Regions from separate parts of the Homo sapiens genome. Here regions 1, 3 and 4 are each linked to region 2. Evidence: fine-mapped expression QTL. A gene starts in region 2. Each other region holds a variant in brackets. All regions are shown on one strand. Distances are between the middles of the regions.

Evidence for each region. PIP is the estimated chance that this variant, and not a neighbour inherited with it, causes the effect.
Region 1: its variant is fine-mapped to the expression of ERCC6L2 in whole blood (INTERVAL, PIP 0.96).
Region 3: its variant is fine-mapped to the expression of ERCC6L2 in CD4 T cells (BLUEPRINT, PIP 0.95).
Region 4: its variant is fine-mapped to the expression of ERCC6L2 in blood mononuclear cells (TOPMed, PIP above 0.99).

The regions. Positions count from the first base shown.
Region 1 is chr9:95,788,555-95,796,662 of GRCh38, forward strand. No RefSeq gene overlaps it. Among named protein-coding and RNA genes, the nearest start is that of ERCC6L2, 83 kb to the right of the region's middle. The variant C/T (reference allele first, on the strand shown) is at 4,121.
Region 2 is chr9:95,872,386-95,880,493 of GRCh38, forward strand. ERCC6L2 (ERCC excision repair 6 like 2) reads left to right here and starts at 3,306. Exons shown (of 19, transcript NM_020207.7): 1 at 3,306-3,699. The coding sequence starts at 3,654. ERCC6L2-AS1 (ERCC6L2 antisense RNA 1) reads right to left here and starts at 3,592. Exons shown (of 3, transcript NR_023390.1): 1 at 3,480-3,592. RefSeq lists enhancers at 2,477-2,606, 2,837-2,886, 2,927-3,026, 3,161-4,035, 3,167-3,396 and 1 more.
Region 3 is chr9:95,633,472-95,641,579 of GRCh38, forward strand. No RefSeq gene overlaps it. Among named protein-coding and RNA genes, the nearest start is that of PTCH1, 130 kb to the left of the region's middle. The variant A/T (reference allele first, on the strand shown) is at 4,388.
Region 4 is chr9:95,808,141-95,816,248 of GRCh38, forward strand. It overlaps ERCC6L2-AS1 (ERCC6L2 antisense RNA 1), which reads right to left. Exons shown (of 3, transcript NR_023390.1): 3 at 1-5,782. It overlaps LOC107987103 (a long non-coding RNA gene), which reads left to right and starts at 7,199. Exons shown (of 2, transcript XR_001746851.2): 1 at 7,199-7,440. The variant C/A (reference allele first, on the strand shown) is at 4,355.

The DNA of each region.
Region 1 (8,108 bases), 84 kb before region 2:
TGAGATTCCAGCACCAGATCTTCATTCAGTGGGTAGAGTTCTGCCAAGCTTCAACTGCTGCCATGAGTTAGCTAGAGCCAAAAAGGACTGAAAAAAAAGACTTTTCATAGAGAGATAGGTGGACAGTTACGCTCTGGCTGGCATGCCCACTTTGCCTCTGCTGTTGAACAAAAGGTCCCCATGCAAGGTCAATGCGTAATGAGCCACAGTTCAGCTGGAAATACATTTTCAATGGCTTCCATCCCTTTACAGAACAAAGGGGAAAGCCCAATTCAGGTCAGCACTTTATAGCATCCTCATTTGATGAGAAAGAACATTTTTTTCACTGGCTGCTGGCACAGTCTCCCTGCTCGTGGGAAGAAGCATCTTTGATCCACTTGGCACAGGTGGTGAGGTTGAGTCCTGTCACTGTCCGTGCAGAGCTCAGCCGGCATCTCTGCTTAGAGATATACTGCATATTATCATATGCAGTGCAGGCAAATAGACCTTCATTTCTCTCTGGCCCCTTCTCTCCTTTTTCCTCTACTCTTTTGGAAGTACTTGAAAACCTATACCTTTCAGAACGAGGAAGAATCTACATTTTTAAATTAACAATAATATCTTTTATTTGGCCTGATTTTATTTTACTTTATTTTTTATATTTAACTTGCACAACTTGATGTTTTGATATACACATACATTGTGGGAAATCACAATCAAGCTAATTAATATATCTATCACCTCACATTGTTACCATTTTTTTCTTTTTTTTGTGGTGAGAACACAAGATCTACCCTCTTGGCAAATTTCAAGTATACAATACCGTATTGTTATTATATTCACATTGCTGTACATTAGACCTTCAGAAGTTATTGACCTTGCATCACTGAAACTTTGTTTTGTATCCTTTGACGAGCATCTCCCATTTCTCCCTCCTCCAGCCCCTGGCAACCACCATTCTATTCTGTTTCCATGAGCTCCACTTTTCTGGATTCCACAAGTAAGTGAGATCATGCAGAATTTGTCTTTCTATATCTGGCTTATTTCACTTAGCTCCGTGTCCTCTGATTCATCCATATTGTCACAGTCTCGCTCAGTTGCCCAGGCTGGAGTGCAGTGGCACGATCTCTGCTCACTGCAACCTCCGCCTCCTGGGTTCAAGCGATTCTCCTGCCTCAGCCTCCCAGTAGCTGGGATTACAGGCGCCCACCACCATGCCCAGCAAATTTTTTTTTTTTTGAATTTTTAGTAGAGATAGGGTTTCACCATGCTGGCCAGACTGGCCTCGAACCCCTGACCTTAAATGATTCGCCCACCTCGGCCTCCCAAAGTGCTGGGATTACAGGCGTGAGCCACCCGGCCCAGCCAGGATTTCCTTCTTTTTAAAGGCTGAATAATATTCTGTTGTGTATGTATCACATTTTCTTTATACATTCATCCAAATTGTTGGACACAAAAGTCGATTTCATATCTTGGCTATGGTGAATAATGCTGCCATGAAGATGGGAGTGGAGGTACCTCTTTGAAATACTGATCTCATTTCCTTTGGATAAATAAAAGAAGTAGGATTGCTGGATTAAAATGTGATCTAATTTTCAATTTTGTGGGAAAATTCCATACCTTTTGCCATAATGGCTGTACCCATTTGCATTCCTTATGTATAAGGGTTTCCTTTTCTCCACATCCTCACCAGCACTTCTTATCTTTTGCCTTTTTGGTAATCTAACAGGTGTGAGGTGGATATCTTATTGTGATTTTGATTTGCAAGAGGGAGAATATTTTTGATTGTGAAACACTCTGATTTTGTGCTATGCAATATGGTAGTCACTAGTCAGTCATGTTGTAACTATTTAAATTTGAATTAATTAAAATGAAAAAAAAACCCAGCCAGATCCTCAGATGCAGTAGCCACATTTCAAGTGTTCAGTAGCCACGTGTGCTACCATACTGGACAGTCCAGATTATAGAACATTCCCATCAGCACAGAAAGTTCTACTGAACAGCACTGCTGCAGATCCTTGCTATTTATTTATTTATCTATTTACTTTTGAGATGGAATTTGCTCTGTCACCCAGGCTGGAATGCAGTAGCATGATCATAGCTCACCGTAGCCTCGAACTCTTGGGCTCAAGCAATCCTCCCATCTCACCCTCCCAAGTGGCTGGAACTACAGGTGCACACCACCATGCCTGGCTAACTTTTTATTTTTTTGTAGAGATGGGGTCTCACCATGTTTCTCAGGATGGTCTTGAACTCCTTGCCTCAAGCAATCCTTCAACCTCAGCCTTCCAAGTAGCTGAAACTACAGGTTCATGCCAGCATTCTCGGCTTTCAATTTTTTTGTAGAGATGGGGTATCACTATATGATTTCCAGGCTGGTCTTGAACTCCTAGCCTCAAGCAATTCTCCTGTCTCAGCCTCCCAAAGTGCTGAGACTATAGTCATGACTGGCCGCACCTGCCTAGATTCTTAAAGTTTGGTCTATGGTCCAACAGCATCAGCTTCAATGGTCATGTTTTAATTTAAAACATAAGTTGTTAAAATAAATGTCAATACAAGATTCCTTCCTTATTACTTACCTTCAAAGAAAGTAAGACCTTAACTTTATAATATCTTTTCAGTGCATAGAATTAAAATAAAAATTTTCATCTCAGACTTGGAAATATTTATTTTTAATTCCTTTTTGGTAAATAAATTATGCCATATTCTTAAAAATGGAATATCTGTACTCATTAAAATGATATTGTAGAAGATTGTTTATGGCATGGCAGAATTCCATAATGTATTTATTTCTATTTGTATTGTTTAATTTCTTCACAGCTTTATTCTGCCTGACACAATATATTGCTGAGGGGGAAAACTCCAAATTACGAGAGCAAATACAGTACTATTACACGCCCAGAAGCACACACACAATCCCAGGAAAAGAAGGGATGTTTATTCAGATGTTAACCAAGGTTAATCCTGCAGACTGTTAGCTATGGATAATGTTGATTGCCTCTCCTGTGTCCATCCCCCCTACTTTCCTTTAGAGTAACTTGTCACTTTGGGCTCAATATCTCCCCAAGCCCTGTTTACTCGTGTGTCTCGGGCAGTTGACTGCTTTCATGGTTCTCTCTGATTGCTCAAAAAGGAATCCCACCCATTTGTAAGTGTTGGTTAAGGAGTGGGCGTGTCACCCAGTTCTGGCCAATAGAATTTGAGGAAGAGTCCATTAGAAAGCTCTTACAAGAAAATGTCTTGCTTGTAAAAGAGATGAGGAAGTCTCTCTTTTTCCTTTCAATGTGGTTATGTCTTGTTGTAACACCTTGAACTACTGTTGTCACCATTGTAAGAGCCAATGGGTTGATGTTAAAACCACACTGAAGACGGCAGATCAGAGAGATGAAATAAATCTGGATTTTTAATGACATCAATGAACCACTGGAAAAACCAGCCCTGAAACCCACCCACCTGGCCCTGGACTCCTTGTTATGTAGTAGTCTGTATTGCTTAAGCCAGGGCTTCTTTCTCCTGGAGCTGAAGCACACAAACAGATATAATGGGTAATTTTAACTTCTTCTTTTGGCTCATATGAGTTTTCTAAGTCTTTTTATATGAGAATGTATTTCTTTTGTAATATTAAATAAAACACTAAAATCGGACCGGGCGCGGTGGCTCATGCCTGTAATCTCATCACTTTGAGAGACTGAGGCAGGCAGATCACAAGGTCAGGAGTTCAAGATCAGCCTGGCCAATATGGTGAAACCCCGTCTCTACTAAAAATACAAAAATTAGCCAGGTGTGGTGGCGGGTGCCTGTAGTCCCTGCTACTTGAGAGGCTGAGGCAAGAGAATTGCTTGAACCCGGGAGGTGGAGGTTGCAGTGAGCCGAGATTATGCCACTGCACTCCAGCCTGGGCGACAGAGTGAGGCTCCGTTTCAAAACAACAACAACAACAACAAAAACCCAATAAAATTATTTCTTTAATACAAGGGGAAAATAAGCAAAATATGATAACCTTTTGTCTTCCCACCAGTGAGGTGCCCCTTTCCATTGAAGTGAAAAAGTTAGCTGAATTATTTTCGTTTCGTTGCTACCAAAAATGAAAAAAAAATCTTTTAGTTTATAAGACCCACATATGAACACTTAGTGAGTTTGA[C/T]CCTCCCAGTGCTTAAGTTACCACAAAGGAACAAGGTGGGGCTATGGGGCTATTTATGACAATCTTGCTCCATGATACTTTCATAAGATCTCTAGGTCCACATGAAGCCGTGAGATGCAGAAGCCACCTTGTTAGGGACACTTCAGATTCGGAGATGACACACAGAGGATGTGCCAGGCGCAGTGTTACTCTCGCAATTATTTACAAAGTTAAATTTCTTAGAAGACTGTCTATACTCATCAGTTCCAATTCATACCCTCCCATTGATTTTTGAACTCACTGTGATCTGGAGTCTTTCGAAGGCCATGGATGATCTTCTTATGACCAAGTTCAATGGTACTCTTCAATGACTGTCTCACTTATGTCTGCGGCATTCTTGTTTCTTTACTGTCTTTTGAAATTTTTTCTCCCTTGACTTCTGATACTCCTGATTTCCCCCTTCCTTTCTGTACACTCCTAAATCTTCAGGCTTCTCTCACTCTCCTCACCTCTTACAGGTTGAAATAGCCAAGAATTTTTCCTTCTCTATTGTCTTTTCAGTGACCCAAATCCTCTTTTTCATGTGATTGGGTCTCACACTGCCACCCAGGCCAGAGTGCAGTTGCACAATCATAGTTCACTGCAGCCTCCTTCTCCTGGGCTCAAGTGATCCTCCTGCCTCAGCCTCCCAAAGTGCTGGGTTTACAGGCATGAGCCACTGTGGCCCCAAATCCTTTTGATTAGTACTATTCAGTAGAAATTTCTGCAGTGATGGAAATGTTCTGTATCTGTGCTGTCCAGCAGGGTAGCCAGTAGCCACACTTATGTATGCAGGATTTGAAATGTGGATAGTGCAACTGATTGTCTAACTAAGTACATATTTTCCTCTACTTTTAGAATATTTTGGAAAAAAATATTGGGGCCTCAGTTTTGTTGAAATAATTGCTTCAGTTCTCTGCTGGATGAGTCTGCAAAGATCTAGGTGGTAAGATATAAGGCCAATTGAGTAGTCTAGTTAATCCTGTACTTTCCACACTGTAATAAATTTACACTCTTTTCTCTTAAAGCTTACATGTAGTGAGATGTCCTGTATCCAAGTCCTGCCAATGTGTTACTCATCTTGAACTGGCTGAGGTGAGGATAGGAAAATACCTCTCCTGTTGGCACTTTTTAACTCTATCCCTAGCCTTTATTTGAGCTAAATTTCCTATCCCCAGGCAGGTTTATATGCAGAATTTCACTGCTGGTTTACCTTATTGCTTGTTAAATATCTGGCCATCCTTTGATTATTCAACCTAAAATCCAGCCATTGCTTCTTCTATACTTTGTTCATTCATCTTTGGTGAGTACCTCCAGCTCAGGAAGAATAGGAATATTTTGCAGTGTGGAGATGGGAAGGACCAACCACCGAGAATTTTAATGATCAACTCTGGACGATAGTGTAAAAAACACCAGAAGAAAGTGATGTAGTCAGCATTACTAAATTTCAGTGATTATAACTTTTGAAGCTCACTAGCAAAAAAGAAAAAAAAAAGTGTTATGCAAATGTACCTCTCTCTTTTCTTTATTTCCTTTTCCCAGCAAAAACATTGTAAATTGCTAAAAGTCTTCTGGTGACTTGTCATATTTGGCACGAGTTTAATTGGTTTTGGCAATTGTGTTTTAGTGACTCATGAGAGAATACTTTTAGTTTTTTTACTAACAGATGTAGCAGTGCCTGTGCTAAAAGCAATGACAATAATGTCATAAGGTTATAAAATGGCAGGAATTTGCTGCTGGTGGTCCAATAAAAACAAACTAGTATGAAGAGGGAGCTGTGGGAAGATAAGATGTAAAATATACAGTGCTATAAATGTTTAGTCACAAAAGATCTGATCTTTTGTCGTTTATTTAAACAACACATGTTGAAATTGGGAATCTGCACATGATATCCTAGGAACCACTACATTTTGAATTCAATGTGTTTGTAATCATATTTCATTTGCATCATTGCTCTCATTTCTTGTTCAGGGAAGTGACTCTAACACCACTAGAAAATTGAGATGATATCCTACTCATACTTTGTTTCTTTAAGAAATGTCTTTTTGAAAACTGTGTTATATTTCTGGGTCTTTAAAACGGTTATCATTTCCCCTTGCATCATCTGATTGGATGGCCATTACAACTAGAGAAGTCACTTTCTTTTGAAACATGAAATACTTATGCAGCCAATGTTTGAATGCCCATTTGTCCGCCATGAACTCTGCCAGGTATTGGAGAAACAGCTCTGGACAAGTCCCTGGCCTCCAGGAGCTTACCGTCCAGAGGGAGAAAAGGCAAGAAGATACTTGTGCTGCTTATTAAAGGCTATGTTAGAAGAACTATACACTATGTCAACATCATAGAGATGAGGTCCGTTCATGTGGGATATTCCCAGTCTCCTCTCTAGTCCAGACCAAAGCGGCATTCTACTTTGCCTCCACCTCAGTCCTGTGGGGTGATTCTGTCTTTGCCATCCTTGATGGTGGATTTTCATGTTTTCGAATAAAGAGAATGGGGAGAGAAAGATTGAAAAGGTGTGAGGAGGTCAGTCGCAGTGGCTCGCGCCTGTAATCCCAGCACTTTGGGAGGCTGAGGTGGGCGGATCACCAGGTTAGGAGATCTAGACCATCCTGGCTAATGCAATGAAATTCTGTCTCTACTAAGAACACAAAAATTAGCCGGGTGTGGCGGCGCTTGCCTATAATCCCAGCTACTCAGGAGGCTGAGGCAGGGGAATTGCTTGAACCCGGGAGGCAGAGGTTGCAGTGAGCTGAAATTGCGCCACTACACTCCAGCCTGGGCAACAAGAGTAAGACTCTGTCTCAAAAAAAAAAAAAAAAAAATAGAAAAGAAAGAAAAGGTGTGAGGAAAGGAAAGGGGAACAATTATTTTTTCCTAGATTAGTTCCTGGGCTTCAGCATTATGAAAAAAAAAAAATCCTCATGGTGGGGAAAATAGAAAAACACTTAAAAAGAAGTTGAGGCTGGGTAGAGTGGCTCACACTTGTAATCCCAAAACTTGGGGAGGCCGAGGCAAGAGGACCCCTTGAGGCCATGAGTCTGAGACCAGTCTGGGCAACATAGTGTGACCCTGTGTCTACAAAAAATACAAAGAAAGAAATCAGGCAGCTGTAACTGCTAGGCTGGAGTCCTACCTACTTGGGAGATTGAAGTGGAAGGATTGCTTGAGCTCAGGAGTTTGGGATTGCAGTGAGCTGTGATCATGCCACTGCGCTCCAGCCTGGACAACAGAGAGAAACCTTGCCTTACAAAAAGATAAAAGAAAAAAAGAAGTTGTCGAGGGGCTAAGCCATGATACATAAAAACTGATGAGCAGATTACAGAGGTCAATATACCTCCAATCAAAAGGCACACCCCTGACCAGTTCCCCCTGACCTGGGTCTAGGCCAAGGCTCTCAATCCCAGAGACAGAAGGGGATTTGCTTCTCTTCATCCAGTCTCTTGCTAGTCTGTGGCCCATTTACGCAGTCACAGCAAACAATGGCACATTTCCAGCAGTTTGGAGCATCGGTGGTGTGCTCCAGCGCCAGGTGTAGGCACTGGCATAATGCTCCCTGGTGTGCTGTGAGAGGCCCTGCCCAGCTCCTGTTCAACATCTCCTCCCGCATAAGGCAAGAGTGGAGCATATGTGTACAGAGGACCAGACACACGTGCATATGCACACACACACACACACACACACATCTCCCAGGAAGCACAAACCTTAATTCGAATTTAGGAGAAAAATACCCTCTAAATCTGCAAGAGTATAGTACTACTCAAAATTACACCACAATTAATAAACTAAACAACAAACTCTGTAAATGAAAGACTTGAATTACGATTAGCTATAATTAAGATTAGATTTCCCTAAGATTAATGAGCGGCCGCTTGTTTTATACATGTTTTCAAGGCACCCATTCTGGTCATTTTACCAAAGCAAAATTTGCTCAAAAGATGTCTCTACTTCTAGAAACAGAAAACTGCTA
Region 2 (8,108 bases):
AATGCTGCAACCTAAAATCATCTAACTAAAACTCAAAAGACTTAATTTCTTGTGTTGTCTTAGAGTTTCATATCTATTTTTTTCTGGAGCCTTTTTGCTAGATTAACTCACAATTCTGGAGATCTGTCAACCACATACAGATATATATTTGACTTTTGCAGTGTGAAGATAAAGAGAGACTATTTTTTGGCAAATTATTGGTGGGTTTAATCATCCTTCCATGAGCCTGTTTTGAAATGCCTGTGTTATCACCATCTGTGTTATTTTTTTCTCTTTTGTAGTTTTAATTGGCTTAATTTTTGCTAGATCCTCCTTTGCCAAAAGTTTTGTATGTGATTCAGTTCATTCATGTGATTTATCCAACATCACACATATTAACTACAGGAATTCCTTAATATTTTACAAGATATTCAGTTTAACTTTGAAGTGACTGGTCTGACAGCGTTAGATGTTCACAATATCAGCACCTAGACAAGGATGTCAATGCAAAGACAAAAGCTACTGGGGGAAGGAATATTTGAGAATGTCTAACTTTATGAGGCAACTAGTTCACTAGGACATATTTTCATGTCATGATTATTTCTGCTTCAGTATACACTGTAAGTACAGCAGTGAGGTTAAATAATAAACACTCAGAAAATGAGGGCCGGGCGCGGTGGCTCACGCCTGTAATCCCAGCACTTTGGGAGGCCGAGGCGGGCGGATCACGAGGTCAGGAGATCGAGACCATCCCGGCTAAAACGGTGAAACCCCGTCTCTACTAAAAATACAAAAAATTAGCCGGGCGTAGTGGCGGGCGCCTGTAGTCCCAGCTACTTGGGAGGCTGAGGCAGGAGAATGGCGTGAACCCGGGAGGCGGAGCTTGCAGTGAGCCGAGATCCCGCCACTGCACTCCAGCCTGGGCGACAGAGCGAGACTCCGTCTCAAAAAAAAAAAAAAAAAAAAGAAAATGAGGTATCCTCCTCTTTTGTTAGTCACAAGGGTATTCCTTCAACCAGATGATACCTCCCATTTAAATCAAAATTTATTTCTGAATTTGCTTATCACTTCTATTAAGAGGTCTGCTCTGTCAAGAGCTACATCTTAACTCAATGGACCTCTGGAAAAATAAGACAAAATTACACAACTAGTCATTTCAGAGAGGGGAAAAAAATCAAACTTCTTCCCTGGTAGTTGTAGGGGAAAAAAAGAAGCTTGATTAAAATTTCAATTTGCCATTTTGATTTTAGAGACAATGTGAAAAGAGATATAATCCATCAATAACAAGCAGCAGATTTTTCTAGATTTTAAGATTTCCAATATCAGGGTGCATGTCAGAATCAAGAATTACAATTATAATTAGTAGTGTTTTTCGCTGTGTCGCCAGATTAGAGTGCGGTGGCGCAAACTCGGCTCACTGCAACCTCTATAGACCTCCCGGGTTCAAGCGATTCTCCTGCCTCAGCCTCCTGAGTAGCTGGGACTACAGGCATGTGCCACTACGCCCAGCTAATTTTTGTATTTTTATTAGAGACGGGGTTTCACCATATTGGCCAGGATGGTCTTGATCTCTTGACCTCATGATCCGCTCACCTTGGCCTCCCAGAGTGCTGGGATTACAGGCATGAGCCAACCGCGCCCGGCCTATTAGCCAAAATATTAAACTGACATAATGGCTATGTAGAATGCAACTTTCAAGTGGATGCATTCCATTGATAATAATAGTAATAACAACACATATATTCCTTACTATGACCAGCTACTGTTTTAGGAGTTTTACTTAATTATCTAATTTTTTACAATTACCATTTTTAGGTAGTTTACTATTATTAGCTTCACTGTAATGGTGATAGGTGAGTACAATAAAACACGGAGAAGTGATCTGGCCAACAACTCACACATAGATGGCTGAGTTAGATGTTTCACTTAGGCTTAAAGTTATTGCCTGCTGGTAAGCAAACAAGTCATATTTTAAATGAAGCATTTTATGAACACATACTACTAGTTTTTAGTATCTGCCATAGAATTGAGATCTATTTGCAAACAGCCATATTGTTTTCTTAAGACACTACTGTAGGCAGAATAATGATCCCCCAAAGATGTTTATCTCCTAATTTCCGGAATTCGTGAATATATTAGCTTACATGGCAAAAGGATTCTGCTGATGTGATCAAGGGCAGAGACCTGGAAATGGGAAGATGATCCTGGATTACTCAGGTGAGCCCTCAGAATCTTTTCCAGCTGCAATCAGCGGTAGACTTGAGGATGGAAGGTTCAGAGAGATGGCATATCACTGGCTTTGAAGATGGAGGAAGGGACCAAAGCCAAGGAATGTGGACAGAAGCTGGCAAAGGCAAGCTAAGGATTGTCCTGTGGAGTCACCAGAAAGGAGTGCAGCCCGGGTGACACCCAGGTAGCACTTCTGATCTACAGAACCGTGAGATAATAAATGCATTGTCTGTCAGATGATAAATTTGTGCTGTTTCAAGCTACAAAGTTTGTGGTTTTTGGTTATTGTGGCAATAGGGAACGGATACAGGCCCTGTCAGGTATTTCACTCAATCCATGAAATACCTTACAGTATACAAATTTTAACATGCGCGGGAGCCACTTACGGATCCGTCTATCTGTGCTGCCTGGGAGTGTCAAGAGGCCGTGTCCTTCATTCACCTCGCGCGTGGGCGGCGCTGCCCTGAAGATGCTCCCGGGCTCAGTGCAGACGGCTCAGCGTTCTCTCGCGTTCAACGAACCGCCAGAAACGTCAGATGGTACGGAGGAAAACACTTTACACTTTAACAGTATTTTTACGTTTATTTGCAGCAAATGTTGTTGGCTTTGTATTTAAAGTATTTATGACTCACTATAAAGTGTAGGATCCAAGAAAACGCGCTAGTTTCACTTGGCCCCCGTGGCTGTCCCGGGGAGCTCTCCAAGGAAGGACTGGTTCCTGAAGTTCCTGGGGTGCTGCACCACCACGGAAGAACCAAGCTCCACAGAGAAGCCAGAAGCCGCGACCGCGGGGACGCTCTCTGCCAGGCCTCCACCGCCTCAGCGGCCCTTTACAGCCACCGCATTCTCCATGCCCCCAGTTATTTCTAGCTTCGCACAGCGCCCGGCCCACCGAGCGACCTCAAACCTCGCGACACTCGCAACTCCCGAGGCCCTTCCTGCTACTGGCCTCAGAGGGAAGAGACATCGGGAAGATTGCTCCGCCCACAGAAAGGAAGATTTCGTTCTCGCGAGATCCCAATGACAATTCGGGAGCCCGTTCTCGCGGGATTTTCCAAGACCGGGTTGGAATTTGCGGGGGTTAGGAGACGGAAGTCAGAGCCTAGGAAGATTTGGGGGTCGCCTTGCCGGCCTCCTGTCCTCCTCCGGCGGCGGCGGAGCCCGAGAGAACTAGGTGAACACCGCTTTGCCAGCCTCACACAGCGTCCCCTGGCTCTGCCGCCGCTCCGGACGTCGCCCTCCCGTTCTGCTTGGGTCCCCTTAGTCGCTACCTTTGCTGGGATCCCCCTCCTCCATCCTGTGGCTTCGGGTTGCCGAAGAGCGATGCTCGGAGGGCGGCCGGAAGTGGCGTTGGCCGCCATTGGCCTGCCGGCCAGCCACCTTGCTGTCCTCCGCCGCCTTCCGGGTGTTACATGCAGCCGGGCTCGGCCCCTCCCCCTGGCCGGATGGATCCGTCGGCGCCACAGCCCCGCGCGGAAACCTCAGGCAAAGGTACCAGCTCCGCGCTCGCCCCTTACGCAGAGGCCTGTGTACTGCGTCGCGTTGGACCAGTTCTTGCCGGTGCCCTTCGGGTTGGGGTTTTGCCCTGTAGATCCTCTTCAGTGACAGCTGCAGATTGTGAACCCCTCCAGGCCTGGAACCAAATCTCCGATTCAGTGTTGAGAACCTGGACTCGGGAGTCAGCCCCTGGGATCTAGTGCTGCCTCTGACAGTTACTTGCTGAGCAACTTTGGGCAGGCTCCTCATCTGTAAAACTGGGTTCATTACTAGGTTCTTGCGATTATTAAATGACGTGGGGAATACGCAAAGTATTTATGTGACCCCGCGTGTGGCCCATATTAAGCACTCAGTAAATGTTATTTTCATTCTTTATTCTTGTATGCCCCAGTTGTTAGTGAATGGCAGAAGTTTGTTGTAAGTAGATAAATGAAGGTTGAGATATTTAGTTCAGTTGAGTTTTATTGCCTATTGAGTCAGGGCATTATATTCTGCCTTAAATAGGAGGTTTAAAGAAGGTGTGATTATCTACCACAAGTCACCTGGGATGCCTTCTGGCACCCAAATGAGTAGTTTTCATTAATAATTGTGCTGTATAACAAAAGCTACCAGGTATTGAGTGATTTTCCTGAGCCCAGCAATATGCTGATTGTTTACTTGCTTTCCTTTGAGGAAGATATCGATCTCATTAAATAGATGAATTCAGAGCTAAAGTTCAGAGAGGGCAAGTTACAAGCCTGAATTCTGAGGTCTAGGAATTGATGACGCTGTAATTCAGGGACCAAACATATAAATACCTATAGGAGACTGGCAGCTAAAAATAGATGAAGCTGCCGAGTGGATATTGTGACTGGGAGGCTCATTCCTTTTGATAAATCTAGTCACTCTTGGTATTTAGGGAAATTGGTGGAAGGAGCAGAAAGCTCCAGGGCCCCGAGGTGGGAACACCCTTGAGGAATGCTTGAGGAGGCCTTTGGAGTGAAAGAGGGAGAGAGAGACCCTATCACCAGAATGAGTTGAGTTGGTAATTAGTTTAAACCAAAACAAATGATTTCGACTCATTAAATTTTAGGACACTTAACCCATTTCCCTGTTAAATCCAACAGGAAATCTTAACAATTTAAGCAGTTGTTCTGTAGTTTGGATACTGAGAGATTCCATTTCTAACTCAACTGAATTTATTTCGTCCTAGAAATTATCCGAACTCAAACCCAAAATACTCCAATAAGTTGTGTGATTCCCTTAAGGCTTTTTTTTTTTTGCACATGCTGTACACTTATCTGAGATACAGTTCTTAGACCCCTTTCCCTTTTAAATTACATTTCTCAATACTCCCTTCTCATAGCACTCTTCTTCCAATGCAGTTTTTACAGTTATGTATATGTTGGTGTACTTTTTAGTTTTCTCGCAAGATATCAAGGATTTGTGAGATTGATAATTTGTAATAGGCCAGGCGCATGGCTCACACCTGTAATCCCAGTACTTTGGGGAAGCTTAGGCGGGAGGATAGTTTGAGGCCAGCCTGGACAACATAAGCGAGACCCTGTCTCTACTAAAAATAAAAAATTTAGCCAGGCATGGTGGTGCACACCTGTAGTCCCAGCTACTCAGGAGGCTGAGGCGGGAGGATGGCTGAGCTCAGGAGTTGGAGTTTACAGTGAGCTATAATTGTGCCATGACACTCCAGACTGGGCGACAGAGACACTCTTGTCTAAAAAAAAAAAGAAAAAAAAAAGAATGTGTAATAAATTCGCATGTTCACTGAATGTCTGCTGTGTGACTCTGTGTTGGTCCTGGGGATAAAATTTATAACAGTACAAACTTTTCTTGGAAAGGAAATTACTCTCTACTGGAAGGAAAAGACAAAAAACCAGTGGACATGATAATTAAATGTTATGATAAGTGCTACAGAGGCAATAAAATGATGAGATAGAGAATAATGGGTACCCTACGCTAAATAGGTGGACTGGGAGCAGAGAGACTGGTTAGGCATAATTTAGGGAAAGTTGATGGTGGCATGCTTTAAGACAGAGGTCTGCAAACTACTGCCTGTGGGCTAAAACTGGTCTGACACTTTTTTTTGTAAATAAAGTTTTATTGGAACACAACTGTGCCCATTTGTTTATGTATTGTCTGGTTGCTTTTGCATTACAAGGGCAAGAGACTGTATGGCCTACAAAATCTAAAGTAACAAATAGCTAATAACTGACTCTAGAGAAAATGTTTGCCAGCCTTTGCTTTAGAGAGATAGTGGCATGGAGGAAAGTGATTCATTTTTGAAGTAGAACCAGGATATTCTGATGGATTGGATGTAAGGAGTAATATTAAATGAGGTTTAAGGGCTGACTAATGGTTTTCTACCTTGAAAAGTTGGTTAGATGATGATGCCAGTTTTTTGTTTTTTTTTAAATGCCAGCTTTTTTTTTTATTATACTTTAAGTTTTAGGGTACGTGTGCACAATGTGCAGGTTAGTTACATATGTATACATGTGCCATGCTGGTGTGCTGCACCCATTAACTTGTCATTTAGCATTAGGTATATCTCCTAAAGCTATCCCTCCCCCCTTCCCCCCACCCCACAACAGTCCCCAGAGTGTGATGTTCCCCTTCCTGTGTCCATGTGTTCTCATTGTTCAATTCCCACCTATGAGTGAGAATCTGCGGTGTTTGGTTTTTTGTTCTTGCGATAGTTTACTGAGAATGATGATTTCCAGTTTCATCCATGTCCCTACAAAGGACATGAACTCATCATTTTTTATGGCTGCATAGTATTCCATGGTGTATATGTGCCACATTTTCTTAATCCAGTCTATCATTGTTGGACATTTGGGTTGGTTCCAAGTCTGCTATTGTGAATAGTGCCGCAATAAACATACGTGTGCATGTGTCTTTATAGCAGCATGATTTATAGTCCTTTGGGTATATACCCAGTAATGGGATGGCTGGGTCAAATGGTATTTCTAGTTCTAGATCCCTGAGGAATTGCCACACTGACTTCCACAATGGTTGAACTAGTTTACAGTCCCACCAACAGTGTAAAAGTGTTCCTATTTCTCCACATCCTCTCCAGCACCTGTTGTTTCCTGACTTTTTAATGATTGCCATTCTAACTGGTGTGAGATGGTATCTCATTGTGGCTTTGATTTGCATTTCTCTGAGATGATGCCAGTTAATAAGATGCAGGAAGACTATTAGTCACCATCATTTTTGACATTAGTTTTCTTCATTTTATACCCATTGTGTGGTATAATATTTGGTGAATAATTTGTGCTTAAATCACATATGTTGAATAATAGATAATAAAATAAGTCTTAAGAAATGATAGGGTAGGCAAACACATAATGGGAAATATAAGTAATGTGTTAAGAATTGCTGTAAGGGTTGCTTTAGGTTTTAAGGTGCAAATAGTACTGTTATGAAAATTGGGCCCATTGACCTATATGTTGTTCTACTTGTACAGTGGATCGAGGCTTTAGTTTGACATTAAAACACTCTTTTAGAATGGTGTAACAGTTGTCAACAGTTTGGGTCCAGAGAGTAGAGTGGGAGAGAAGGTTTTTCCCTCTGTACTCATTATTGTTATGGTAAAATAACCTCATCAAAGTTAGTGGCTTTACTTTTAAGGAACAACTGATGGATGAGGAATTTAATGAGCTATTCTTGCTTTAGATAGTATAAACATGTCATGTTGTAGTTATAAATATCTAACTGGAGGTCATCAGGAAGACCCTAGGAAACTGCCAGTGGTTATCTGATCTCAGTGAGAAATGTATAGGAAAAATAATTCCTAGTGTTCTTATGTTTGTAGCCATAGAATTATTTTTGGATTCTTGCCATAAGAAATTCCATTTGGAAAATTATTTTTACTTAGTTTTCTTTATTTGATACTTTTTAATTGTACCAATAGTATACTGTGGACTCCCTCCTCATTCATAGTGGTATATTTTCTGGGAAAATAAAATAGCTGTATGGTTAGTCACAGAATAAGTTCATAAAGAGAGAGGTAATACTCTTTAAAGTGTAATAGGATCTTTGCAGAAAGAGATCTTAGAATTCATCTCTTAAAGTAAATATTCAAAACCCGGAAGAGGAAAAGCTGTGACATCACTGTAGTTGAATTGGAGGTTCCCATGGTTAGCTGTATACAAGCAGTGGTTAAAGTAAAGGCTTAGAGGCAACAATATTGCAGTGAAAAGAAACAGCTGTTTCTAGAGAAAGGCAATGGAATAACTGTAAAAAAGACAGATGAACCACAAAGCATTGCTGTCCAGAGGATTTTAGTTTACTCATTACCAAGTCCTATTCACGATTACTCTACCATATCATGAAATATATGTATATATATATGTTCATGAGTCAGGAAGAATATTTTAGTCAGTGGCTCTCAACCCTGGCTGTGCGTC
Region 3 (8,108 bases), 240 kb before region 2:
ATAGTATACTTGGTGCACTGCAAAATTCTAACTGCAATCAGATTGCATTGATAAACCCTGGAGAGTTCTGGTTTGACTGACTGAATTTGTCATATTGCTGCACTCTTTTCTATTTTAAAAACTTGTACACGGCCAGGCATGGTGGCCCACACCTGTAATCCCAGCACTTTGGGAGGCCGAGGTGGGCAGATAACAAGGTCAGGAGATCGAGACCATTCTGGCCAACATGGTGAAACCCTGTCTCTACTAAAAATACAAAAATTAGCTGGGTATGGCAGTGTGTGCCTGTAATCTCAGCTACTTGGTAGGCTGAGGCAGGAGAACCGCTTGAACCTGGAGGTGGAAGGTGAAGGTTGCAGTGAGCTGAGATTGCGCCACTGCACTCCAGCCTGGCAACACAACTAGACTCCATCTCAAAAAAAAAAAAAAAAAAAAAAAAAGAAAAAAGAAAAAGAAAAAAAAACGTGTACATGCCCCACCATAATGCCAGGAAACATCAGCTTCAGTACTTTGTCTCTCATTGTATGACCCACCTTTCCCAAATAGAAGCCCTCCCCAGATCATTAACATCCCATGCGAAAGATGGATTTGTAACCCCGTTAGTGCCTAAGGTGTTTCGGAGTATGATGATTGTCCTTGTGTGTTGATCTGGCTTGGATCTGTGTCCAGCCCAAATCTCCTGTCAAATTGTAATCCCCAGTGTTGGAGGTGGGGCTTGGTGGGAGTTGATTGAATCATGGGGGTGGATTTCCCTGTTCGTCTTGTGATAGTGAGTGAGTTCTCGTGAGACCTGGTCATTTAAAAGTATGTGGCACCTCCCCCCTTTCCTCCCGCTCCCACCATGTGAGACACCTCACACCCCTTTGGCTTCTGCAGTGATTGAAAGCTCCCAGAGGCCTCCCCAGAAGCTGATGCTGCCATACTTCCTGTACAGCCTGCAGAACCATGAGCCAATTCAACCTCTTTTCTTATAAATTACCCAGTCTCAGGTATTCCCTTAAAGCAGTGTGAGAACGGACTAGTAAATGTGTTCTAGGTGTAAGTGCTTCTTTGTAGATCGTTGCTGCTGTTCACATGCAGAGCACTGGAGACACAGGAGGATTAATTAAGGGCCCAGATTTGAGAGCCTGTGGGGCACCCTCCTTTAGAAGCAGGAGGGCAGGCAGAGGCACTGGGCCCAGGCAGCATTGTCTTGTTTGGAAACCCTGCGGACAGCCTCATTCTGGTCATTTTTCTAATTCCTGTCAGTCTTGATTCTCCATGAAGAGCTGTGCTGGCCTCGATGAGAATGCCCCTGGGGAAGCGATGACCAGACGCTTGCCTTTAGGGAGAGCTGTGTTCTCTCTGCAGGTCTTTGAACTTCCCCAGAGCAGTTATCTGGCCTCTAGAACTTATCCAAAATGTTTTCTTCAAGAAGCCCATTCCCTCGCCTGCAGCAGTAGTGTGGCACGGCCACTCTCTCATCTGGTTTCCAGCAGTTGGGTAGGGAGTGTTGTTTGCCTCCCGGACAGCACACACACAAGCTGGGGCTGCCCTCCACATGTTCTTGGAGAATTGGCACTCAGACCCCTTTTCCTGACTCTTTGTTAACATACACTTCAAATGACTGGGCAGGGCTTGATCTTAATCAAATGTCTCCTTAATATCTGCCCTTGGCACAGATCCAATTCCTGAGCACTGTCTATAGAGGCATTTGTGTAATACATACATATACTCACACATATGGCCACACCACCCACCGTCATAACATAAAGGTCCCAAGCATATGATGAGCCTATTTTTTTTTCCGGCAGAGATGGTTTAAATAAATGGACAACATAAGTACTTCTCCCAGCCGCACATCCTCAAGGTCAGCAAGAAGCAAATGGGGTAAAAAGTCCTGAGCCTAAAGTTCTCAACCTGTCTTGTTTTAAGCTGTGAGTGTAGGTGCAATCGGATGAGTGTTTGCTGGGGAAGTATCTGGATATTTGAACCCAGATTCCCATGTAAGATTCTTTCAGCCCATTGAGGAAGATGGGTGCACACCAAAGGGGTCTTCTGGAGATGTGGTCTGAGGCAAATGTAAGCTCCAGAGCATACAGCTGTGTTTTTCAGCAGTGAGCTCTCAGGACTACCTGCATCTAATATCATGGGGAGCCAGTCAAAATGCAGATTCCTGGGCCTCACTCATGACTGCACAACTCAGAAGACATGGAACCTAGGTATTTTCATTTTTATAATATTTCCTGGGAGATTCTAAAATATATATGCGTTTGAGAGCCATCGATCCAGAGATTTTTAAGTAGAGGAGCACATGAGAATCACTCTCAGCACTCTGTTCTCTTTATATATACATATATATATATTTGTCTTTTTTTTTTTTTTTTTTGAGACAGGGTCTTGCTCTGTCACCCAAGCTGGAGTGCAGTGGTGCAATCTCAACTCACTGCAGCCTTGGCCTCCTAGGTTCAAGCGGTCCTCCCACCTCAGCCTCCCGAGTAGCTGGAATCACAGGTGCACACCATCACACCCGGTGAACCACTGTGCCTAGCAGATTTTCATTTAATACATTTGGGGGTGGATCACAGATGTCTGCATTTGGAAGAAGTACCATTGTGATTCCAATTCCAGTGCTCCTATGTGTCCCAGTGGTCCTCTAATTTTGGCAGGTGTGCAAGAGAATGAATGGGGGTAACATGGAGGGGTGGGGTTCCCGTTAAAGGTGGATTCCTGGACCTTGCCTTTAGAGTCCTCTGCATGTTCTGATGTGGGAGCCCTTGAAGACAGGGACCCACTGAGGGCATCCATGGACTCACCCCCTTGCCACTCCCCCGGTCCCAGGGATTCCAAGACCACCTCCTTGCCCTTCCCACCCTGCACCCTTGGTACAGTCAGCACTGGAGCCAGGCCTGCCTATTGAGGGCGGGAATGTGCTCTGCAGTTTCTTCTTCCAGGGGATTATTCTAAGGCACTCCCCACCCTTCCTTTCATTTGAGTTCCATTTCCCTGGGATGATGATGACAAGTGCCAAAGAAATGTCTAGACCACAGATTCTGAATGTGAACAAAAATGCCTTAAAGTACAAAAGAGATTTTCTGCAATGTGAAGCCCAGAGGATTTTTGGTTGTTGTTGCATTAAAGCAGTGCCATAGAACAAGGGGTGGGGTGGGAAACAGGGAGGCAACCTCTCCGATGGCTTTGCTGCTCTGGTCAGTTAATACTTACCAGGTGCTAGGAACAGAAATTGTGTTCATCATGAAGGATCGATAACCCCATTACCCCCATCCTTAGATACCACAGCAAAGTCTAATGGTTTCTTTTTTTTTCTTTTTATAATAGTTTTTGTTTTTAAATAAATTTTAATGTTATCGAAGTAATATATGCACATACTTTTGAAAGTCAGATATCACTTCCAGGAAATTTTTCTCATATTTTTCTTTGTTAATTTCCTGTCAGTGTCTTTTCTACTGTCTTTTTCTTGAACTCCTTTGCATGTTGAATCTCCTGGCTTAATCCTCTAATTGCTTATCTTTTTCTCTTCTGTAGTTCATTTTTTTTATCTTTCCTCCTGTCTGCCGGATTATGTTGTCTTTTTAAATCCAACCCTCTGTTGACATTTTTACTTAGCTGTACTATTTTTAATTTTCAAAATATCTTCCTCATTTTTAGGGTATCCTGGTACTGCTTTAGGGACGTGATATCTTCTATTAATTCTTTGAGTTTACTGACTTCTGAAGTTTTAATTTTGCCCTCTAAATTGCTTCTCTTTCTTCCAAGGTACTGAAAAGGACCAAATCTCCTGAACTGGGGGCTGGGGAGAGAAGAGATTCATTGTTTGTGTTCTGGTTTGGGGGTGAGAGGAAGCTGTGAGTATCACTGTTCAGAATGAAGGTTTTTATTTAGAGCTTCTGTTTTCAGTTCATTCCAGATGCCTAACTCTCCCCATGCCTGAGTCTTTGTGCTCAGGGTCTCCTTAGTTGTGTTACACTAGACTGATGCTGTCTAATACCATAACCTCTCACCACTGATGGTCCCTGAGCACTGGGAATGTGGCTGGTCAGAATTGAGATGTGCAGTGAGTGTAAAATACATACCTGATTTTGAAGACATTACAAAAAACAGTAAAATATCTCAGTTTTTAAAGTACTGATTATACCTTATCTCAATTTGTAAAGTATTGATTACACATTGAAATAATGATATATTAGGTTAAGTAAAGTATATTATTAAAATTAATTTTACCTTTCTCAATGTGGCTGCTGGAAAATCTAAAATTACATCCAGGGCTCATATTATATTCCTGTTTGACAATGCTGCCCTTCTGTGGCTGCTGGGAAAGGGATCCAGTGGCCTCCCTGCTCCTGTCTTAGTCCCATGTGTCTATGGGAGCCATTGCCTCAAGTTCCTG[A/T]TCCTTTCCAGGGCTCAGCAGAACAAATCCTTGCTACTCCTTGGCATCCTCTGCAGCCTCTTGGTTTTAGCTTTCTCTGTTAAATTTAGATTAGTTACTATTGCCTCATGTGCTTTTCACCTTCAAAAAGTTGATTGAATTATCTCTTCTGCCATTCTCTTAGCATTTATGGGTTTACTATTTTCCTTTGCTGTTATTTGAGTGGGGTTTTGGAAGGGAATGGAGATAATGCTTGTGATCAATCTGCCATTTGTAAGTTCTAATGGCCCCTTGAATCAAATTAAATTGTCAGCTTTAAGGCACATGATAATTTCCCCTCTATGCCTAAAGCCTGTTAGTCAGCTTGGGGTGTCATAACAAAATATTGCAGATTGGGTGGCTTAAACTACTGTGATTTATTTCCCACAGCTCTGGAGGCAGGCTGATTGGCTCCTGGTGAGGGCTCTCTTCCTGGCTTGCAGGTGGCTGCCTTCTTGCTGTGTCTTCATATAGTGGAGATGGGAGAGGATGCAAGCTCTCTGGCATGATTTTGTATAAGGGCACTAATCCCATCATGAGGGCTCCACCCACATGACCTCATACAAACTGAATTATCTTCCAAATGCCCACCTCCAAATACCATTACACTAGGGGTAAGGGGTTCAACTTATGATTCTTGGGGTAGGGCATGTCAGTCCATGGAGCACCCTCCACACTGGCTCATGTTCCTTACTTTGTCATTTGTTCTCCTCCCCCACATGCTTGCCACCAGGATATTCACCTCAAAGTTTCTTTCATGTTTTTCATAGCAAAGCCTTGTTTCTGTGCCTTTACTATATAGCCTGAAGACTTTTATTCAGAAATTGACAAGACAATTTTAAGTTTTGTCTGGATAAGCAAAGGACCAACAATAGCCTAAAATATCTTGGAAAAGAAGAAAAAAGTTTCTGGACTCACAGTACTTGACTTTAAGACTACGCATCAGGTCTGGGTGGCACTGGTGGAAGCCTGTACATGTCAGTCAGTGGGACAGAATAGAGTGCCCAGAGACGCACCACCCACAAATAGATGTCCAAATAATTTTTGATGAGTGTGAAAGCAATTTAATGTACATAGAAAAATCTCTTTACTAAGTTGTATGGAAACAATGGGATATTCATATATATATATGTATATATATATCCCTTTGTGTGTGTCTATAACCTCAATTCCTACTTTGTACCATATCTAAAAATCAATTTGAGATGGGTATAATATTTACATATAATATCTAAAACAATAAAGCTACTAGGAGAAAACCCAGAGGAGTATCTTCATGACCTTCAGGTAGGCAAAAATTTATTGGGGAGGTTACAGAATGCACAAGTCATAAAAGAAAACAGTGTATGTAAATGAAACTTCATCAAAATTCTGAAAAACTCCATCAAGAAAAATCAATAGGCAAGCTGCAGACTGGGAGAAAATATTTGCAACACATACATCTGACAAAGGACTTGTATCAATAATATGTAAAGAACTCCTGTAACACAATAATAAAAAGACAGACGCCCAATTTTTTAAAAATGGGCAAAAAACTGACAAAACAAAAGAACATATACAAATGGCCAATGGTTATATGAAAATGTACTCAACATCATCAGCCACCAGGGAAATGCACAATTTATCATAAGACACTATGACATGCCTGCCCGAACACCTGAAATGAGAAAGACCAACACCATCAGTGACTGGAGATGCGCTTTGTGGTTCTCTTGACTCAGTGATGCCCAGTCTCATTCCAGAAACATTTAATTCTGCTCAGTCAAAACTCAACACCATCCTGGCTATCATGGTGAAACCCCATCTCTACTAAAAATACAAAAAATTAGCCAGGTGTGGTGGCAGGTACCTGCAGTCCCAGCTACTCGGGAGGCTGAGGCAGGAGAATCACTTTGAACCTGGGAGGCGGAGGTTGCAGTGAGCCGAGATCGCACCACTGCACTCCAGCCTGGGTGACAGAGGGAGACTCCATCTCAAAAAACAAAACAAAACAAAGCAAAAACTCAACAAACATTCCATGATCTCAAAATGTTCTACCTGATGGGACAGGTTTAAGAATACAATTGAAATGTCCATAAAACAATGTCTTTCAAGAAGAACGAGGAGATTTTATTAAGCAATCAATTTGTGTAGCCTGTTTTGAGGAGATTTTCCTAGGTTCCCAGGATATTCCACTTGGCCCCAGTGTGACTACTCAAGAATGGGAAGGAGTCAGGAGTCTGACTTTTTAAGGGTTCTCATGTGAGGGTGATGTTCCTGCTTAAGAGGAGGGGATTTGACGGCGACTTCTCTTGGCCTCCATTCCTTGTCATGTGGGGTAATCTGACTCAAGGATGCCTCCATGACAGTTTCATCATATATGGCACCAGCTGTTGTTGGAGTGGGAACTGGGTCTTCTCTGCAGTCAGGGGAAGTTGGAAGCATTCAGAAGATGCCCAGAGCATCTGGAGCCTAGTTGACACAGTACTTTATGATGGCAGATGGAGGCACATGTCGCAGGAGATTCCGGAGTGGTTCGGTGTCAGCACCCCTGCAAGGCGGGGTCTTGTTAGTTGACCTAAGAGATTCCATTCCAATGTGCTGAAGATGGATTTTCAACTTGGCCTTTGCGGAGGCTAAGAAAGATTCATTGCAAATTTCTGTTTACTTGTCTGGCTTTCGTGGGATAGCCAGTGTTTTCCCTTGTTTTAGGTTATCTTTGGCTGGAGGGCAAGAAAAATAGTCAATGATGTCTTGGAAGTTTAAGCCTACACTATATGGCTCTTTTAAAAAATATTTGGTTATCCAGAAAGATATTTCTTGTGTTTCTACATCTAAAATTTCTCTGTGGTTTGGCAGGACCAAAGCTTTTCATGGCTGCCAGTCATATCTTAATTGGATCACCTTGTGGAAACTTCAGAGAGGTTTTCCTAGAATTTGTTTCCAATTTCTGATGTCGACCCAGCATTTATTATCTAAGGTGAGACAGACACGACAATCTCCTCATTTCCTCTCTCTTTAAAAGGACGTGCTGCATTTTTCAAAATACCTCCCAAAGAGTGCTCACTGGGAGGAAAATTCTCCTTTCTTGGCAAAGAACGTTCTTGCTAGCTCTGTTACTCCTCAAATGATAGTAACTTATTTGCAAATTCTATTGAGGAAATAGCCAACAGAAAATTCAAAGAAGGGGGAGAAAAATGCACTTTGTACTCACACCTAAACCCACTGTATTTTTTAAAAATTGTACTTATTTGAGCCTACCTTGTATTATGGACTACAAAAGTGCCTGCTTGCTCTTTCATTTCTTACAAAATTATAAGCTCCTTGAGAGCAGGAAAAACATCCATTCCTCTTTTACCCTTTCAACATCAGCCAGAATGTCTGACATGTGATAGGTGCCTGGGATGTATTTGTGGAATTAAAATGCTTGAAATATATCTCTGGGGAACACATGAGAAGTTATTAAAATATTTTCCAAAAATATTTAATGGCACATACAGGTTTAATTTTAAAAAGCCAAGCACACACTTTACACATAATAGGATTCAACTTTTGTTATAAATAGGCACAGATACATGCACTTAGAAAAAGGACTGGAAGGAAATGTGAAAAAATAGTAAACAAGGCAATTTCAGGGTGGTGAGATTAAAAGATAATTTTAATTTTTAAAATTTATGATTTTTGTCAAATTCAAATTATCTACAATAACCATGCATTGCTTTTA
Region 4 (8,108 bases), 64 kb before region 2:
ATGGCCCCTTCAGTAGGATGCCTTTGCAGTCTGAATGTGGCTTCCTGGGAACTATTTAAAACCTTTGCCTTGGGCCATTCTGGCTTTTTGCCCAGAAAAAAATGCAGATTAAGGGAAGAAGTCCAGAATGCAGCAAATAATACTTCAGTATTGTCCCATTTAAGCATGTGTTTTCCCAGTATAGGATTGTTCACTAATCATGTCTAACCATGGACAGTCCTCATCTGTCCATAGTCTCACAAGACTACAAGGTCCGCCTGCCCCAGTAAATGTTTGTGGGACTTAGAATCTCAAGAAGAAAAAGTATGAAATATATAAGTGGCAAAGTTAACAGAGTTTACAGGAAGAGATCAACACTGGCTAACAGGAGTTGGGGAGGCATTTTATACATGAGGATGGGATAGCTGAAGGGTGGTGAGAGTTTGTGAATAGAGGAGGGCAACCTAGGTTTCATGAGCCAAGGTGTAAATTGGTGGGCAAGCTCTTGGGGATAGAAAGAGCAAAGGCCTGGCCTGAATGGAGGGTTTGTGTGAGGGAACATGGGAAAATCATGTCTAATCCCAGAGTTGTCAGATTCGCAACATATTGACAGTGGTTTCTATTCTCTGTCTCCTTTTAATTCTCTTGCATTTAATATTTAGATGGGATGACTTTTGTCTGACTGCATTTCCCAAACCTCCCCGCTTCCAACCACATAAATCAAAGCAAGATTAGATTTTGGATTTACTTTTCTGTATGTTCGGCCACTAGAATCCTCTAGATTTTTCACACATAGGAGTTAAACCCAGGGATTGTCCATAGCCATGCCACAGATCACTGGGGGCATGAAAGACTCTTCTAGAACCTGAGCCTGCCCAAAGCCAAGTCCAGTAGCAGACACCATGTAAATGACAAATGAATATCTAGAATAATCAGGTTAGGTTTGCCTTGCTATCATTATCATATATCATATTCCCAATTTCTACAGCTGGATCATTTATCTTTTATGATCAATCACTGCACTAAACCAATGTGTTGATAATCATTTTTTTCAGGTATCTTTACTGTTCAGATTGTTGGAACATGTAACCAGCAAGAATATGAGGCATCATTTACTTTCTTAATCTCTGGGCTTATTTAGCCATTCACAAATATCAGGCTCTTTTAAAAAATATTGGTAGCCTCTAGCAGTTAGAAGGAGGTGAAGGTCTAGGTCCTTTCCCTCCCACTACCTCACCAGGACTTGTTTTTAAATGAAAGCAAGTCTCAGACCAAATTCTGCCTCATACACACGAACATTTATTGGGAGGTAAGTACAAAAATAGCCATGCAACCTCCTCCTCTCATTCTCTTGTCTTTTTAGGTACTTTGGAAAGCATCTTGCAGGAAATATTTACTTTGTTGTGGTCACAACAAAATTTTAACATCAGAGTAGGTGACAGAGATGACATAGGTGGCTCTCCATTAGGTGGGGACCATAGGACAGAATTCTATCCATAAAGAGAGAGAGATTCTGTCACTCCAAAGGTGGTCAGCTGCTGGGTTTGCCAGATCAAGGGAGGAGGTGCCAGTGGAAGTCTCTTCAGCCAACTACATGCCTTAGCATCACTCATTTCTTCAAAGAAAATTTCCTTCTAACAACCCCTGTGATAACAAATAAACCCTCTAGGGCAGATGGAGAAGGACTATTTAAAACCTTTGCCTTGGGCCATTCTGGAACCTAAATTAAGATTAGGGTTTGTGAGTCAACTACTTAAACTCACACAGTTTTTCCTCTGCTCTTACGTAAAAAAAAAAAAAAAAAAAATAGTGAACACAGAAGACTTCAGTGACAAAATGTGGGGGTTTCCCCAGACACCAAGCAGAAGACACAAGCTGAGTGTCTAATTCAATTCAATTCTGTGGCTCATGCCTGTAATCCCAACACTTTGCGGGAGGATTGCTTGGGGCCAGGAGTGTGAGACTAGCCTAGCCAACATGGAGAAACTCTATCTCTACTAAAAAATACAAAACTTAGTCAGGCGTGATGGCATGCACCTGCAATCCCTGCTATTTGAGAGGCTGAGGCAGGAGAATCGCTTGAACCTGGAAGGCAGAGGTTGCAGTGAGCCAAGATCAAGCCACTGCACTCCAGCTTGGACGACAGAGTGAAACTCTGTCTCAAAAAAAAAAAAAAAAAAATTCAGAGGCTATCTACCTGTAGATGGCCTCAGATCCCACAGGTTAAGGGCTCAGTACCCTAAACTGATCTCCCTTTCAGACACCAGTCACAAGTTGGGGCCCCTGGAACATCTGCCCAACTGACTTCAAATTGGGGCTCCCACCACCCACTCTTTGGGTTTGATTAATTTACTAGAGTGGCTCACAGAAGTCAGGGAAACATAGGTTTACTGGTTTATTATAAAGGGTATTACAAAGGATATAGATGAAGAGATGCTTAGAGGGAGATACGGGGGAAGGGGTAGGGAGCTTCCATGCCCTCTCCGGGTGTGCCACCCTCTAGGAAGCTCCGTGTGTTCAGCTATGCAGAAGCTCTCCAAACCCTGTCCTTTTGGGTTTTTATGGAGGCTTCATTCTGTAGGCAGGATTGATTACATCATTGGCCATTGGTGGTCAACAACCTTTCCACCCTCTCTGGTTCCTGGAGGTGGGAGTAGGGGGCTAAGAGTCCCGACCCTCTAATGCTGCCTTGGTCTTTCCTGTGACCAGTCCCTGTCCTGAAGCTACATAGAGGCTGTCAGCCACTAGTCAACTCATAAGCATACAAAAAGACACTATCACTTTGGAGATTATAAGGATTTTAGGAGTTGTATGTCAGAAAATGGAGTCAAAGACCAAATATATATTTGACAAAATCACAGGGTTCTTGACATGTTAACCAACAAATGCTGACTAATCACCCTGAGGCACAGATGAAAGCAGGGTAGTTATCATCTGGTTTGCCTATATTTTAGGTTCTTCTCCCTGTAATCTTCAAAAGCTGTCCTAAGCCACCTTGAGTAAAAACCTAGCCCAGGTTACACAGTATGCTGCTGTACTCCTGCCACTTCCCTGCTGGGCCCCTGGCACCTCCCAGCCCCTCTGTCATCATAATGAGAGCACCACTATTGGATTTCTCCTAAAAAGAAATGTAAGAGCCACACGCTGGAATCCAAATTCAAACGACTGATTTCCCAGAGACCCAGAGGCAGCTCCTTGGATCCACACAGAGTAGATGCTGTGAAGCAACATCTCAGGAATGAAAAATGTGTTCCCTGAGCTGCCAGGAGTTCTGCAGGGGCAGGCCTCACTTGTCAGGCCTCTCCAGAATTGCCCAGGCTGAACACAACAACTTCACCTGAGATGACACCCCCAAGCTGTGAGTTCTTGGAGCAGTCACATTGAAAGACTCACCAATACTGGGCCCCCTTGCCACAACACTTCTGAAGTTTGATCTCAGCTCCAGAACACCCACCTTCTTCCCTGCTCAATCCTGCTTCTTTCTCGTTGCTCACAGATGTTGATCCCAAGAGTACTCCCCAATAAACCTCCTATGCACTAATCCCCATCTATGGGTCTGCTTCATACCTTCTTTTGGAACCATTTACTCTAAAACCATAGGCTTGCAGGGATGCCCACTCATCTTTGCAGCATGTGCAGTATAACCATCCTAGAAAAGTTGCTGGGAGCATCCTGATCTGGAGGGACCCAAGGTATGGCACCAAGCAGGTGTGGACTCTCTGGGGTCCAGTCCATCAGCACCGCCTCTTCTGTGGATGCCTGCATTCTGCTTCAGGACCCTGGTGTCTGGGTTTTGATTGTGTCCTCAATTGTACAAAAGATGATTTTTAAGAACCATGTCTTATATTTAGTTTTCATTTGTATTGAAGTTGTATATGCACCTAGTTGAAAGAATCAAATGATTCTGCAAAGCTGATGTGACAGAGACTGCTGGTTGAGCACTAGCATCATTCCTCACCTTCTTTAATATCAGGGCTCCAGTGTCTTAGCTGAGCACGTGGCTAACAGCTAGACCCTATGCTTCCCAGCCTCCCATGCAGCTGTGGTCCTTATGCCCACATCCTGACCGATGGATGTGTGGCCCTTCTGGGGCATGTTCCTATCAGTTATGCACATGTGCTCTCCTGACCCTGTCCTCCTTCCCTCTGGCTGGGAAGACAAAACTAGAATGGCTGCCTTAGTCCCACAGGTGGAAGCTACGTTTTGAGGATCATAAAGGTGACTTTCCAACCCAGATTGCTTCTCTTGAGATCATATCAAACAGAGAAACTTATACCTACCTCATTTAAGCTTCTGTATTTTGGTGTCTTTTTGCTAAAGCAGCTTAGCCTGTAATTTCATCCATATTGCTTGTTTAAACAAACAAACATACAAA[C/A]AAACAGTCTTCTCCATCCTCTTTTCTTTTTCCCAGAAGCACCACCATATGTTTAAATATTACATTTCTATTGATATTTCATGTTTAGGCATTATCTATTTGAGTTTCCAATTTGGAAGATGAATATTTCACTGTCTCCTTCTCTCCCACCTTCACCTCAGCCTCCCTTCTCCCATGCATACTCAGCACCCACTCCTCCATATTCCAAAAATACTTATGTTGTAGTTTTGGATAGATCAATAGATATTTAGTATTTATACAATCATGATACTGCAAGTGGTATATAAAACAGTGTACGAGCCAGGCGCGGTGGCTCACGCCTGTAATCCCAGCACTTTGGGAGCCTGAGGCAGGCAGATCACAAGGTCAGGAGATCGAGACCATCCTGGCTAACACGGTGAAACCCCATCTGTACTAAAATTACAAAAAATTAGCCGGGCGTGGTGGCAGCCACCTGTAGTACCAGCTACTCGGGAGGCTGAGGCAGGAGAATGGCGTGAGCCTGGGAGGCGGAGCTTGCAGTGAGCTGAGATCACGCCACTGCACTCCAACCTGGGTGACAGAGCGAGACTCTGTCTCAAAAAAAAAAAAAGTTACGATGGATGTTTTGACTTTCTTGAATAACATTTTGTTTTCCCTTTGAACTTTTATTCTTTATATTTCCTTAGCATCCCATTTGCTTGCTATTAATTCAACCCTAAACAGTGTCCCTATTGTGTGATCTCTCAATATATTCAAACACACTGGGGATATCATTAGCTTCATCTGTTTGAAGAAATCTTCCTAGGGCTTTTTTTTTTTTTTTTTTTTTTTGAGACAGAGTTTCACTCTTGTTGCCCAGACTGGAGTGCAATGGCACAATCTCAGCTCACCACAACCTCTGCCTCTCGGGTTCGAGTGATTCTCCTGCCTCAGCCTCCCGAGTAACTGGGATTACAGGCATGCACCACCATGCCCAGCTAATTTTGTATTTTTAGTAGAGATGGGATTTCTCCATGTTGGTCAGGCTGGTCTTGAACTCGTGACCTCAGGTGATCCATCCGCCTTGGCCTCCCAAAGTGCTGGGATTACAGGCGAGAGCCACCGCGCCCAGCCCCTAGGGCTGAGTATGGTTCCCTCTGGATTGGCTGCTCACTAAGCCTGATGAGTGTGTGTCCCATCTGCCATCTTATAACTGGATATGAGTCTTGGTTCTGTGTCTTCTGATTGCCATGCAAGTCTTGCTGCCTTCAACAGCTGCAAAGGCTGCTGTGGCTACATGACATAGCATGTTTCCTTAGTCTCAATGGAGAGGACTCTATGTGGAAGTATTCTCTTGGTGAAGGGCTTCTCCTGAGAGCATTAGCAACCTTCTGCACAATGAAGGGATTGGAAGTCTCCAAGCTGGATGAATTTCCTCATTCTGGGATTTCAAACTTCAAACTCTTCCTGGTGGGCAGAAAAATGGACACTTAGTTAACAGCCTTTTCAAAAACATGAATTCAAGATATTACTGTTTAATTGCTTCAATTCAATATTCTCTTGACTACATCATTACACATGGACACTAGTCAATCTTCAATTTGACAGAATCCTCAAATATCTTGGGTATGGCACTGATGCATAATCCTTTGGTCCTTGTCCAAGTACTGGTTTAGGTATAACTTATCAAGAATGCCTGGAATCTAAACAGCCAAGTTTAGAGCTTAAACAGAGCCTCCTTCCTCAATGTCCTTCACTGCCAACTAGCCAGAGCACCCCCCAGCTGCTGGGGGGCTCTGAGAAGACCACTTTCTTTGGTGTATTTTATTACAGGCTAAACAACACCCCTAAACAACAACAGAAACTCTCTGAGGTTTCCCAATGCCTTCAAGTGGCTCTGGGAAGGCATTGGAAGGCTTTGGATGAAATTACAGGCTAAGCTGCTTTAGCAAAAAGACACACAAAATACAGAAGATTAAACTATGCAGGGAGTCTGGGAGAAAAGTTAAAGAGAGGAAACTGGTCAACAATTGTCAACCTTATCTTCTCTTCAATTATCTTTCCTAAATTCCGGTATGATTTTGGTTGCTTGAACAATCAGCGTGGTCTGATGAGAGCTTATCAGCTGCGAGTAGCAGGAGAAAGAAGTGAAGATAATTATTTCCCACTTGGAGCTGAATAAAGTGAAGCTAAACCACTAAATGCAGCTCCCTAAACACACACACACACACACACACACACACACACACACACACAGAGCAATACACAAACTCAAAGCTTGATAATTTTAGTCTGGCTATTGATATTTCAAAATTGCATGGGAGAAAATTGTTATGAGTTGAATTCCAGTTGGTTTCAAAGGCATTTCTAAATTTGTGCTTTTATACCTGCAGTCATTACCTCACGTTTCTGAACGTCTTCTACAGAGCCTATGCCAGGCGCTGCTGGCTACATACACAGGTCACTAACAACAAAGCAAGGTGGGATACATTAAATAGCCAATGGGATGGGAGAGGAGGAGATGGGACTTTATCCGCATTTTAAAGAAAATATACAATGCCAAGGAGGGGCAAGCAGTCCCTGCAAGGGGAGCGGCATGAACGTGGGGAGCAGGGGAAAAGACGGGCCTGGCATGAATCTGGCACACTCAGAGAGCAATGAGTTTGTGTAGCGCAGCGGATTCAGGTATAGGAGTAATAACGGCCCCTGTGAGGCGGTAAATGGACTCTAAATTTCGGTTGAGCATCAATGCCGACTTAAAGGATTCGCACATCTTGAAGGCATTGGGAAACCTCGAAGGGTTTCTGTTGTTGTTTAGGGGTGTGGTTTGGTTGGGGAGAGAAGGAAATGTGATATATACAAGACGCTGCTTTGGGATGAGTCATCTGACCGTGGTGTACAATGGATCAGAATGGAGAGAGAGTGGGAGTGTTCGGATTGTTGCGGAGGCAGGGTGAGGAGCTGGGAGCCTGCGCTAAGGCTACCCATGACCTACAGGCTGTGCGAGCCACGCTGTTTCCCATCTTGTCTCCGTTCATCTTCCTCGTGCCCTATGAAGTCGGTATCCGGCTCCATCTTACAGACCAGGAAACTAAGAGCAGGCAAGGTCCAAGGCCACATAACAGGTAAACGCACAAGTGGGACTGGAACTCATTTTTTTGTCTTGACTTCGAAGTCCATGTTCTTTCTACTATGACACATCAGCCTCTTTTTTTAAAAAATGGTTAATAATAGCGGTGACAGAGGACGTGGGAGGGACCCTATTTGGAAATGAGTTATCTATCCTTGCAGACTCAGCGTCCTTACATTGCACCACGACAGCATGAATAAGTCCATATCCTATTACTTCCCACTTGGTACTTAGGGAGTAAAAACCATTCCATGCTGTAAGAGTCTCTCTGAGTGCTAAGTCTTGTGATCGCGGTGAGATGGAAAGTGAGTAGCCAAACATGTTTCAGGTTTGTGGGAAATTGCAAAGGACAAGACAGAAATCATAAAGACGCAATTGAATTACACTGTGTCGTGGCCCCTGGGATAACAGCTGTTTTCCAGGTCTACAATCGTTCTCATTAGTAAATTAAAAACTCGAAGCTCCCCATCCGCGGCCTTGCGCTGCTAGGCCACGTGGTGACAGGAAGCCCTGTGTTTGTACAGGTGGGGGAGCGAGCAGGCTTGCAAAGTGGGTGGCGGGAAGCTCTGCCTGGAGCACAGGTGGGGAATCCGAGCAAAAGCAGACCCCGGCAGAGGCCCGTGTGTTCCGGCGCTGTCAGCTCCCCTCTGCAGAGGGTGGCGT